Regions from separate parts of the Homo sapiens genome. Here region 1 is linked to region 2. Evidence: fine-mapped expression QTL. Tissue or cell type: blood mononuclear cells. Region 2 holds a variant in brackets; the other region holds the start of a gene. All regions are shown on one strand. Distances are from middle to middle.

Region 1 (6,316 bases), 94 kb after region 2:
TACCTGGGTGAGGTGGCACGCATCTGTAATCCCAGCTACTCTGTGGGCTCAGCAGGAGAATCACTTGAACCTGGGAGGTGGAGGTTGCAGTGAGCCGAGATCGTGCCGTTGCACTCCAGCCTGGGTGACAGAGCGAGACTTCATCTCAATTAAAAAAAAAAAAAAGAAAAAGAAAAAGCCATAAGCAGCCCTCAGTGCTGCTCTGCCTATGGAGTAACCATTCTTTTATTTCTTTACTTCTCTAATAAATTTGGTTTCACTTTATGAGCTCGTCCTGAATTCTTTCTTGTGTAATATTCAAGAACCCTCTTTTGGGGTCTGGATTGGGACCCCTTTCCAGTAACATTTCCTCTTCTCTGGTCCCACAATACTTTGTCCATAAGTGATTCTGTACTTATTAGCAGATAATTACAAGTATTTTTGTTTATACAATGTCTTACCCCCTAAACTGTCAATAGATTTTGTTCAATTTATTTTTGTATGCTCTAATATAGAGCCTGGCACATAATGTGTATTCAACAAATGTTTACTGAATAAATTTTCAAGGGAATAAGTTTTAATTTCTATCTTTCTGATTGCTTAGTGTTTAATATATTATAAAAAATATGATTCAGGCCGAGCGTGGTGGCTCATGCCTGTAATCCCAGCACTTTGGGAGACTGAGGCGAGGGGATCACCTGAGGTCAGGAGTTTGAGACCAGCCTGGACAATATGATGAAACCTTGTCTCTACTAAAAAATACAAAAATTAGCCAGGCGTGGTGGTGTGCGCCTGTAGTCAGAGCTACTCCAGAGGCTGAGGCAGGAGAATGGCTGGAACCCGGGAGGCGGAGGTTGCAGGGAGCCAAGATGACGCCACTGTACTCCAGCCTGGGCAACAGAGCGACAGACTCCATCTCAAATAAATAAATAAAAAAAAAATAAATAATATGATGCACTTTCAGGATAGCATGCTCTTTGAATCTCTTTAAATAGTGACAGTTTATATTTGAACAGTTATTTTTTCATTTTTCAAAGCACTTTTCCCCAACATTTTATTATGAAAATCTCCAAATATATGGGGGAAAAATAATTGTAAGTGAACACTTGTGTCGGGACTCAGAAACTGATAGCCCAAAATATGGGGCTTTGACCGGCTGAATGGAAGCCTCAAGGTCTCTCTGACCTCACTGCCCAGCACCATCTCTCCCAAAGCACAGGATGAAGTTGAAGTTCCTTTATCTGGCTACAATCCGAACCCACCAAAAGGAACAATTGTTTTTTCTTCCCCTCCTTGTAAGACCAAAAATGTAACCACCTGAACAGACCCTTTCACAAGATAATGTGCAAGTTCATCCCTGTGCCCTGATCCATTCACTTTCCCTAGTCATCTCCTCAACAGAATGCCTCTGCTCCCCTCTCCCCAAGTCTGTTGGCCAGGATGGTAGACAAGCTTCTGAACCCCGTTGGGGGTGTGTAATCACTCTGTGATTCTCCCCATGTACATGTTAATAAATGCATATGCCTTTTCTCCCATTAATCTGCCTTTTGTGAGTTGATTTTTCAGCAAACTTCAGAGGGCAAAGGGAACATTTTTCCCATGGTCCCTATACCCATATATACCCACTACCTAGATTCAAAATCAACATTTTGCTATATTTGCAAAACACTTTTCATAGGCTAATTTTATTATCACCTTTTTAAAAAAATTCTTTTTACAAGTACTGCTCCTTGTGGAGCAGGACTACTCGATAGACAGTGTGCCCAGAGTAGCTTATTATCATTTTTTATTTCACCTAATGACTAAGGTATGATTCTATGTTTTATAGATAAGGAAACTGAAACTGAGGCTTTAATGACTTCCAAGGAGCTTGTCTGCCAGAAGTTGTAATCAACTTGTGCCAGCTGATCTGTCCACACCCTCTATCCACAGGTGTTAGATATGTAACCTAGGTCTGAAAAATATTTAGAATATTCTTGTGATGAAAAGCTTGCAATTCCACAACACAGGGGAATCAGCAAAATCATGGGAAAACCAATAGAATACATTTCTAACTCATGAATCATTCAGAGAAAAATCCAGTCTTGGGTTTTCCCTCCCCCTCATCCCATTTCTATTCCTGATTAGTCATCATTTCCTGCCCAGCCTGTCTGAGATGTTTCTTCCATCCTTTCTTTTCCAGTAACAGTAACCTGGTGCGGGTCTACAGTATCTGTTATCTCAGCTGATTTCCTTTCTGCCTTTTCATGAACCAGAGACATGTGATTTCCAATTAAAGCACAGCCCTGACCATGTCTTTGCTCAGCTTACAAAACGTCAACGGCTCGCAGCTATCCACCGAATTAAGCCTACTATAATCCCCTTCCTTCCACACTACAACCTATCCACGCATCTGTCCTCTTACTCCTTAGCTTCCATCTTACATGACTAAGAGTTGTTTCCCCAAATACACCCTTATTTACTTTTTTCATTTATAACTCACCACCACCCCCTCCAAAGTTTCACGTGGGTAAATTCTAGACCTCCACGTCATAGGCCAACTCAAATGCCAATCCTTCTAATGAACCTTCTAGAGAGCCCGGGCCTGTTGTCATCTCTATAGCCAATCTTTGGCATCTTGTGGCAATAATCTCATTCTACCTTGTAGAGCTTTCTGGTCTGACTTCCCTTGCCACCTTCTGCTCCCTTTGCCTAAGTATAACACTTTTGAGGAAAAGAACGCTGTTTTAATCATCGTCGCCTCGCCCACAGGCGGTGCTTTATTGTGCTTAATATCGTTTAACGCATCACACACTGCCGAGGGGGTCGGAGGCGGACGCCTTTTGCTGTATCCACACAGACCCGCGCAGGCACACACGTAGGCCGTCTGCCACTCTGACAGACACGTGTCCCCTGGGCCACAGCCCTGGAACTGTCTCGGGATTCCCAGCCTGTGGGCGCTTCCATGCTGGCCAGCGGAAGGGGACGCTTTTTTCTTCAGAACAGCTCCAACGGATACCTCTTATTTTAGACCGCCTGCGGATTCTATCTATAAATCAGCCTAAGCCCCGCTTCCTTTTAAAACAGGATTACGCCGGGTCGAGGGAGCCTGGCGTGGCCGCGCAGTGGCCGGGTCCCGCGGATTCCCCTCCAGCTCCCGCTTGGTAGCGCCCGCTTTGTCAGCGCGCAGCGCTCGCCGGGCGCCCTGCAGGTCTCGCCAGGTCTCACAGCAGACGGTGCCGACGCAGCGGTGTTGCACCTCCCTCTCCGGCTCTGCTGCCCGGGATTTCCCCAGAACCTGCGCCGCGCGAGAAGGAGCCTGGGAGCATCCGCCCACACTGCCCGGACAGTCGGCTCGACTCGGTGCCCTCGGCCCCAGCCGGGCTCCGCTCCTCGGGCGCGCGAGGGGCCGTGGTGGCGGCGGCGCCCGGCATGTTTCATAGTCCGCGGCGGCTCTGCTCGGCCCTGCTGCAGAGGGACGCGCCCGGCCTGCGCCGCCTGCCCGCCCCAGGGCTGCGCCGCCCGTTGTCCCCGCCGGCTGCTGTTCCCAGGCCCGCATCCCCCCGGCTGCTGGCGGCGGCCTCGGCGGCCTCGGGCGCCGCGAGGTCGTGTTCCCGAACAGGTGAGTGCACCCCAGTTCCGGGCGGAGAACGCCACGGCCGCCAACGCGCGGCCGCCACCTGGAGACCGCGCGGAATGAATGAGAAGCCCGGGGCTGCCGGTCGTGGAGTCTGGCCTGAAAGTGGGTCCTTTACCGGAGCAACCTTCTGCGTTCCCTTTTTCCTCTTTCCCTGTTCCCCGACTTGCCTGGGGCTTGCATCAAAGCTAGTAAGAACTGGGAGACTGTATTCAGGTTCCCGCTTGACCCTTAGAGGCCATGCTTTCAGAATTTCTTGTTCTTGACCGTTAAATTTCCCCCTTCCGAGGCCGCGAGTTACTATGTTGGTTACATTTTTTATTGCACGACTTAACGGAAATTTTTATGGAAAAAAAAATCTAAATGATGCTTATTTGCTTATATAGCTTTCATGGTCTAGATATTAAGTTTTTTTTTTAAGTCGTGATAATAACACATTGATTCGTTTTACGTTGTTTTTTTTTTTTTTTTTTTTTTTTTTTTTTGAGATGGAGTCTCACTGTGTCACCCAGGCTGGAGTCCAGTGGCACGATATCGGCTTACCGCAACCTCCCGCTCCCGGGTTCAAGCGATTCTCCTGCCTCAGCCTCCCGAGTAGCTGGGATTACAGGCGCCAGTCACCACGCCTAGCTAACTTTTGTATATTTAGTAGAGACGGGGGTTTCACCATTTTGGCCAGGCTGGTCTTGAACTCCTGACCTCGTGATCCACCCGCCTCAGCCTCCCAGAGTGCTGGGATCACAGGCGTGAGCCACCGCGCTCGGCCATTTTACGTTTCTTTGGATTTTTTTTTTTTGGAGGCTTCCACTCTTTATAGTTAACATCATTTTTTGTCCTGTGTATCTAAGATCTTGTAAAAGTGAGGCCTTAGTTTCACCAAGAGCTGTTTTCATACATCATAATAACTACCCTGAGTTTTCCTTTTTTGCTACCTCTGTTTCTGCCTGGGCACACATTACCATGGCCACAAATTACATACAAATTAATTATACTTTAAAAATTGATAAATTTTTTCTTTCAAAACTAGGCAATACATAACTTTTTTTTTTTTTTTTTTTGAGACGGAGTTTTGCTCTTATTTCCCAGGCTGGAGTGCAATGGCGCGATCTCGGCTCACCGCAACCTCTGCCTCCCGGGTTCAAGCGATTCTCCTGCCTCAACCTCCCGAGAAGCTGGGATTACAGGCATGCGCCACCGCGCCAGGCTGATTTTTGTATTTTTAGTAGAGATGGGGTTTCTCCATGTTGGTCAGGCTGGCCTCGAACTCCCTAGCTCAGGTGAACCTCCCGCTTTGGCCTCCCAAAGTGCTGGGATTACAGGCGTGAGCCACCGCCCCCCCGGCCTATAAAATTTAAAAAAATAGGCCGGGCGCGGTGGCTCACGCCTGTAATCCAGCACTGTGGGAGGCGGAGGCGGGTAGATCACCCGAGGTCAGGAGTTCGTGACCATCCTGGCCAATGGGCTTGGGCGTGGTGGCACTCGCCTGTAATCCCAGCTACTCTGGAGGCTGAGGCAGGAGAATCACTTGAACCTGGGAGGCGGAGTGTTGCAGTGAGCCGAGATCGCACCATTGCACTCCAGCCTGGGTGACAAGAGTAAAACTCCGTCTCAAAACAAAATTAATAAAAATTTTAAAAAATGTATATATTTTAAAAATGGTCATCTGGAATGTGATTGAAGCCAAGACTTTAAACTATTCGCATTGTTGGCAGATATTTAGGTATTTCCCAATCTAGTATCAAACTCCTGGCCTCGAGTTATCCTCAGACTCTGGAGCAGTTGAGATTTGCAGGTGGAAGCCACCATGCCCAACTTAGTCATTTTAAAATTAGGATGTTGAATTGGTTGCTGGAGATTCTGAACTATATTGTTCCTTAGAGTGAACTTGACAGTTAGATTCCCCACCCCCACCCCCAATTTCGTAGGAATGTGGTACATTGTGAAATAACTGCCAGAATGAGTATATTGCCTGATAACTTTTTTCTTGCTGGAAATTTTAAGAACAACATTGTTAGAGGTTTGAGGTAGGAAAAGTAAAAGAAAACCAGGTGATGTCTTCTGTACCAGCTTATATCTTAAATTCCCTCAAAGTCTCAGAGGCAGGGTTAGTAGGTACCTCCTCATGGGAATACTGTTAGCTTGTGTAAAACATAGATGGCTGTGTTATCTGAGTAATTACTGTTATCTGAGTAATAATATCAGGTCAGATTGGAATGTTGGGCTTTTGACCCAAGAAAGTGTTTAATGAACTTCTTTTAAGAAATCCCCTGAAACCCCCTAGTTTTACAGATAAGGAAATTGAAGGACTTTATGGTACTTAAACTTTTGTAGGCAGTTACTATAAAGTCTAGACAATTTTCCTGTTCATGCATTTTTAGCTTCAGCAGCTTGTTGGAAGAAACATGCCTGCATTGATTCATTCATTGCTTGTTCACTCATTCCAGATCTTTACAGAATGTCTCACACAATGTAGGTGCTTTATTATGGGAGTTAAAAACATGAGCTTTAGTCAGTCCCTAAGGAGTTTACTGCCCAGTAAGAGATGAGATTTGCACAATGAAATGGCTGTTTAATGAAATGAAACACCTTTTATTCTCTTGACTTGGAAATGGCACAAGGGTGCAGGAAAGCAGGAAGTCCCTTTTGGGCTTCTAGAAATGGGTGGCATTTCAGCTGGCTCTTGAAGCATGGTTAGGATTGGAAGAGATTACTATAAAGCGT
Region 2 (6,316 bases):
ATCATGGGGCATGCATTTGTGTGTGTCTGTGTGTGGTACTCAGCTCCAAGGCCTTGTAACAGAGATGATGTATCCCCATCGAAGAAAAATGACAGTCAGAATAAGAAGACGAAGCCAGTTTGTCACTTAATGCAAAGGCTGATTGTGCGGCAACAACAGCCTCACACTGGGATTGATTACAAACAAGATGACACTTCCCTGTGGGCTGCCTCGCGTGTTATTATAAATAAATACCATTCGTTTTAGAATCTGCATTACTGCAGAGGATAGATTATACCTCAGCGCCCTAGGTATACAGTAAATATCCCAGGGAGTACAATGGCCCTTCTCAACCCACAATAGGAGCCTCGCCTCATGTGACACAGTATCATAAATAAAATCAGGCCGTAGCACAGAGCCATGAGAACAGAAGTGAAGACAGAGTTTGACTGATGTTAGGGATTCATCTCCATGAAGGGCATGCTTTAAAGTGTGGTGGGATTTTGTTCCAAGCGGCCCAGGGGCCCTCAGTAGCTGTAAGGCATTTTTGATTTATCCCTGGCAGTGAAGCCCAAGAGAACCGCTCGATACCTAAGAGTATTTCCTGAAAATCAGAGTTCGGTTTTCAAGATGAAAATAAATCTGTTAAATTTTTTTGAATATCTCCTTGCCTTTGTCCCGACTGTTCCAAATCTGTCATCCTACGATCTTCAAATAAATAAATTATTTTAACCAAGAAATATAGAGCGACTGTTTTCTATTTATTTCTTTATGCCTTGCTTCAGTGCAGGGTTGAATTTGATCTGCCTGTGAGAAATATATATTTTTCATTTCCGGGGCTATCCACTCGTTTTCTATCTTCCTCTCTCCGTCTTCTCGACGTCTTCCTATCTCTGCTATCTTTCCTTCATAAGCACGGATAGGCGCTGGGAAGGCTCAGCCAATCCCCTTTTCAGGTGTGACACGAGTGCCCTCTGCCGTCCAGAATGGCGAACAACTCAGCATCCAGGCAGGTTCAGACCAGACGAGGAGATGGGGAAAAAACCTACAGCCGTTCTCCCATCTCTGGGCAAACACTGGACGTATTGTTAAAATGAATAATTTATTAAACCACAATTGTTTATTGACTGCTCTTTCACTATCTGCTTTCCAGTTATTAAACACATTCGCGGGGTGCTTGGGTGTCAGCCCTTAGCCGACTTGAAGCTTCTTTCTGAGGCAATGATGTTCCCAGCCCCCTTGCTTCTCTCCACACGAGACATTTTCGATCTCTTTTGTCAGGTCAGGGTCAAACTACAGTTGTTCTGAGATGACTTTATCAATTCTCAGTTGATAGACTCTAAATGAAAAAATGCCTACCGCCGCCCCGTCGCTACTTAAGAAGGAGGGTTATTTGTGTAATGTTCTGTCAGTCCAGCAGGATCTGTGACAGACGCAAAGAGTCAAGTGAAATAAGGGAAAAGAAGTTTTTATGCCTCTTATTAGTCTCTCTTCCTTACATCAAGGAACTGATGACATCCATCCTAGGATGTCCTTCCAAACTGAAAGAGGCACGGGAAGAACCGTCCCTCACTCCTTTCGGAGTAAGCAAGACCCGCTTTAAGTATTCGTGCTAATTCTCCACCCTTCACCCTGAGGGGATTCAATGTCCACAGCAGAGCAGGTGGGAGGGGGCCCTTGCCAGGAAGAAAATTCTCTCACTCCAGATTTGAAGGAAGCATCAGTCTGTACCCAGAGTGCCCCCTGCTTTTAAAGGGCAAACATTTCCACCATCCAGAATTGCAAGAAAATGTGCAGTAACCCAAAAATAAATCAATAAGGCCCAAGGCAAAGGAAGAAACAGAGATTCCCAAAATTGAAAGTGAGATTTTATTCTAAAACCCAAAATTTTTAAAAATATTTGATTGATACTGATACTAGACATAAGCACAAGAAAGCTTTCACCATTCCCTCTCTCTCTCTCTATCTCCTAAAATAAGACAATCATTTCATTTCCAAATAACTCATTAGGGATTTGTGTTTAAATGCAGAGACCTATTGCCAGATGTTGCCAAAATAAAAAAGAAAAACCCTAACAGTAAATAAAATCAGAAATGTCATCAAATTATTCCTTTCCCCAAACTATATATGACTTTCAAGGAAAACTCACACTTTGATATTCTCTGTCACAATATTAATATTCACAGGCTTAGCATCCAGAAGACACAGGCGAGACACAGGCTAGGGGGTGGGGAGGAACCCTGCCAGCAAGGTTTGCCCAAACTCAAGCATTGAGAAAGCGTGTCTGTAAGATACAGTACATATTGATGACAACTGGCACTAAATTTGAAGTGAATCTGATTTTCTGACCTGAGTGACAGCTATGGTTTTGCCAGGCATGTGACTGAACATGGCACAACCTCACTAAGCTTTGGTTTCCATGTTTGTAAAATTAAACTGATGCTTCTTCCTTCATGAAATTAAATATGAGTTCTTCTGTGTCATGTACACAAAGTACTTAGCACAGTTAGAGGTAGAGTAAACATGCAATACATGTATGGGACCCTTAGCTTTCTATTTTCATTCCCTTCTTTCCATCCTAAGCACCATACTTCAAAACAGGGTCAGGCCAGGTGTGGTGGTTCATGCTTGTAATCCCAGCACTTTGGAAGGCCAAGGTGAGTGGATTGCTTGAGCCCAGGAGTTCAAGAACAGCCTGGGAAACATGGTGAAACCCCATCTCTATAAAAAAAAAAAAAATACAAAAATTAGCCAGGTGTGGTGGCTCACACCTATAGTCCCAGCTACTTGGGGAACTGAGGCAGGAGGATGGGTTGAACCCGGGGAAGTTGAGGCTGCAGTGAGCCAAGATTGAGCCACTACACTCCAGCCTGGGTAACAGAGTGAGTCCTTGTCTCAAAAAAAAAAAAAAAAAAAGGAAAGGGTCACCCCATTTTTATGCTTCCTAAATTCCATCTGCCTTTATTCAACAAATATTTATTGAACTCTTCTATGTTCTAGCTACTCAAATATGAAAAAGAGTCCTCACCCTCTAGGAAGAGGACATATATATAACACATTAACAATCTATATAATCAAACTAATTATTTGTTATTGGCACTAAAATAGCTGGTGTTATACGTGGCTGTGTGGCACACATGAAGTTTACTTTAGTGGAAGGTGTTCGGGGTAGGAAAGAACCACAATTATTTTTCTTTTCATACAAAGTCATGTAATTAATCATTTCATTTAGAATAATGGTACATTAAAAGTTTAAATTGATAAGTCTAGGTATTTTGAATGTTGCCATAATTTTACAGGTGATAAAAGAGGCTCAAAATGTTCATGATTTGGTCAGGCATGGTGGCTCACACCTGTAATCTCAGTGCTTTGGGAGGCTGAGGTGGGTGGATCACCTGAGGTCAGGAGTTCGAGACCAGCCTGGCCAACATGGCAAAACCCTGTCTATAGTAAAAATACAAAAATTAGCTGGGCATCGTGGCGCGTGCCTGTAATCCCAGCTACTAGGGGGGCTGAGGCAGGAGGATTGCTTGAATCTGAGAGGCATAGGTTGCTGTGAGCCGAGATCGTGCCACTGCACTCCAGCCTGGGCAACAGAGTGAGACTCTGTCTCAAAAAAAAAAAAAAAAAAAAAATAGAAAGAAAGAAAAGTTTATGATTTTTTTTTACAGTTGTGCATTTTAATTTCCTATTTTTCCCC[T/G]GTGGATTCACAAAGGAAATCATGCTAGAAAAAAAGATGTCATCTTAAAGCTGAATGGAAGCCTGGCCAACATGGTGAAACCCTGTCTCTACTAAAAATGCAAAAATTAGCCGGGTGTGGTGGTGCACCCCTGTAATCCCAGCTACTCAGGAGGCTGAGGCAGGAGAATTACTTGAACCCGGAGGCAGAGGCTGCAGTGAGCCAAGATCGTGCCACTGTGCTCCAGCCTGGGTGACAGAGCGAGACCCCATCTCGAAAAATAAAAAAATTTAAAAACATTTTTTTTAAAGCTGAATAGATCTTAGTTTCTCTTCAGCAAAAGCTATAAAAATTTGAGAATCTTGAAAGTCCAGAAGCTTGAGTCTATGTTTTTCTCTGTTGTGTCCCCATTTCCTGGTCCAAAATCTGGCATATAGTAGATGCTCAATAGGTCTTTTTGGAAAGAAAGTAATAACAACATGAGGGTTGAGCCAGATAGGCCCTTTCAGGCAGTATCCGCCATGAGACTGATGGGGCTGGGGGAGCATTTAGGAAAGGCATGAAAACCAGGTGCACATCAGAGCACCCAGAGATGGGCATCCTCCCAGAAATTGAAATGTGCAGTGCAAGGACATGCCCATGGAGATGCCCATGGGAAGAATGCCAAGCAGAGGCCAGGAAGGTGCCTGGAGAGACAGGCCATCCGTACCACAGGGAGAGAACACACATAGGACTTCATAGGAGCCCAGACTGATTATTCTGAATTTAATATTTGCTTAAGTTTTGAAATTCATCTTAATCATAAAACCCTAAAATAGAAAGGAAAATCTAAAGGATACATCATCCCGGTGATAAAATCAGCACCAATTCTAACCTTATCATCCAGAATCCAGACATTTAAAAAATAACAGAGCCTAACGTAAAAGGGGACAGACAAGAGAAATCAGAAATTATTCTCTGGACCCAGTGATTCCCTCAAATTGTCCCCCATTTACTTTCCAATATCTGCAATGAGCAAGTGTACACTCTCTAAGTGACCAAAGCAGACACTCGGGTTTGCACTCCCTGATTTTTTGATCGAATTGCTTCCCACAGTGGATGTCCTCACTGATATTACTTTCTATGTTTCTGCTAATAGAATAAGAAATGTACTAATAGTATATAAAGAAGCTTTATTACTAATTTGGAAATTCTTACGACTCTGAATTATAATCTTAGAAAATCACTGCAATTGAAATATTTTAGTCTGGCCATTAAACTTTGGTTAACAAAGATTAATAAGTGCCCTTGTAACACCAGGTAATACAGCCAAAAGGAAAAAAAAAGGTGTGAGTGCAATGATTGAGATATGTGTAGGGGTATTATGGAAGCAGCTAAGAGGAGTCTCTACCCAGTTTAAGGGGTGAGGAGGAAAGAAATGAGGAGAGGAGATTTCCTGGAAGACCCAGTTGAGCCTAAAAGCTTCCTCCCACCCCATGCCAGATCAGCTCTCATTTTCATTTGTATCTGGAAACTAATTGACCATTTTGAAAGGAGTGAATAAGCTCAGGCACAATGGCTCACACCTGTAATCCCAGCACTTTGGGAGGCCGAGGTGGGCAAATCACAAGGTCAGGGGTTTGAGACCAACCTGGCCAATATAGTGAAACGCCGTCTCTACTAAAAATACAAAAAAATTAGCTGGGAGTGGTGGTGGGCGCCTGTAATCCCAGCTACTCGGGAGGCTGAGGCAAGAGAATCGTCTGAACCCAGGAGTCATAGGTTGCAGTGAGCCAAGATTGCATCACTGCACTCCAGTCTGGGTGACAGAGCAGGACTCTGTCTCAAAAAAAAAAAAAAAAAAAGGAGTGAATAAATCTGAATGCTGACTATTGTCTAAACCCAAGGAACGGGGGTTGTCATTGAGACCTTCCAAACACTGCAAAGACTACACCACTGTTATACAACCTATGATCAGAGGTCACATCGAAGCAAATTGAATAATCAAAGTAATCAATTTGAAAAAGATTTTTATTTCTTCAAAGCAATGTAAGAAAAAAGGAGGCGGGCATGGTGGCTCATGCCTGTAATCTCAGCACTTTTGGAGGCAGGAGGATCACTTGAGGCCAGAAGTTCAAGACTAGCCTGGCCAAAATGGCAAAACCCTGTCTCTACTAAAAATACAAAAATTAGCGAGGCATGGTGTGAGCTTGAGAGGCTGGAGCACAAGAATTGCTTGAACCAGGGAGATGGAGGTTGCAGTGAGCCGAGATTACACCACTGCACTCCAGCCTGGGCGACAGAGTGAGACTCTCTCTCAAAACTAAAGGGAAAAAGAAAGAAAATAAAAAGAAAAAAAGGAGATTCTAGCACTTTTGGAGGCCAAGGTAGACAGGTCACTTGAGCCCAGGAGTTCAAGACCAGCCTGGACAACACAGCAAAACCCTTTCTCTACAAAAAATACAAAAATTGGCAGAGTGTGGTGGCATGTGCCAGTAGTCCCAGCTATGCAGGTGGGTTGAGATGGGAGGATCGCCTGAGCCCAGAGAGGTCGAGGTTGCAGTGAGCCACGATCACACCACTCCACTCCAGCCTGGGCAACAGAGTGAGACCCTGTCTCAAAAAAAAAAAAAAAAAGAAAAAAGAAGGAGGTGGGGGAGGAAGAGGAGTAGAAGAGGA

The links. PIP is the estimated chance that this variant, and not a neighbour inherited with it, causes the effect.
Region 1: it holds the start of NOCT, and the variant in region 2 is fine-mapped to the expression of NOCT in blood mononuclear cells (TOPMed, PIP 0.97).

What each region holds. Positions count from the first base shown.
Region 1 is chr4:139,012,592-139,018,907 of GRCh38, forward strand. NOCT (nocturnin) reads left to right here and starts at 3,190. Exons shown (of 3, transcript NM_012118.4): 1 at 3,190-3,580. The coding sequence starts at 3,391. LOC105377448 (a long non-coding RNA gene) reads right to left here and starts at 55. Exons shown (of 3, transcript NR_133945.1): 1 at 4-55. RefSeq lists enhancers at 1,550-2,749, 1,886-2,807, 2,840-3,189 and a silencer at 3,330-3,629.
Region 2 is chr4:138,918,356-138,924,671 of GRCh38, forward strand. All of the region lies in intron 2 of LOC105377448 (a long non-coding RNA gene), which reads right to left. Among named protein-coding and RNA genes, the nearest start is that of NOCT, 94 kb to the right of the region's middle. RefSeq lists an enhancer at 943-1,002. The variant T/G (reference allele first, on the strand shown) is at 3,680.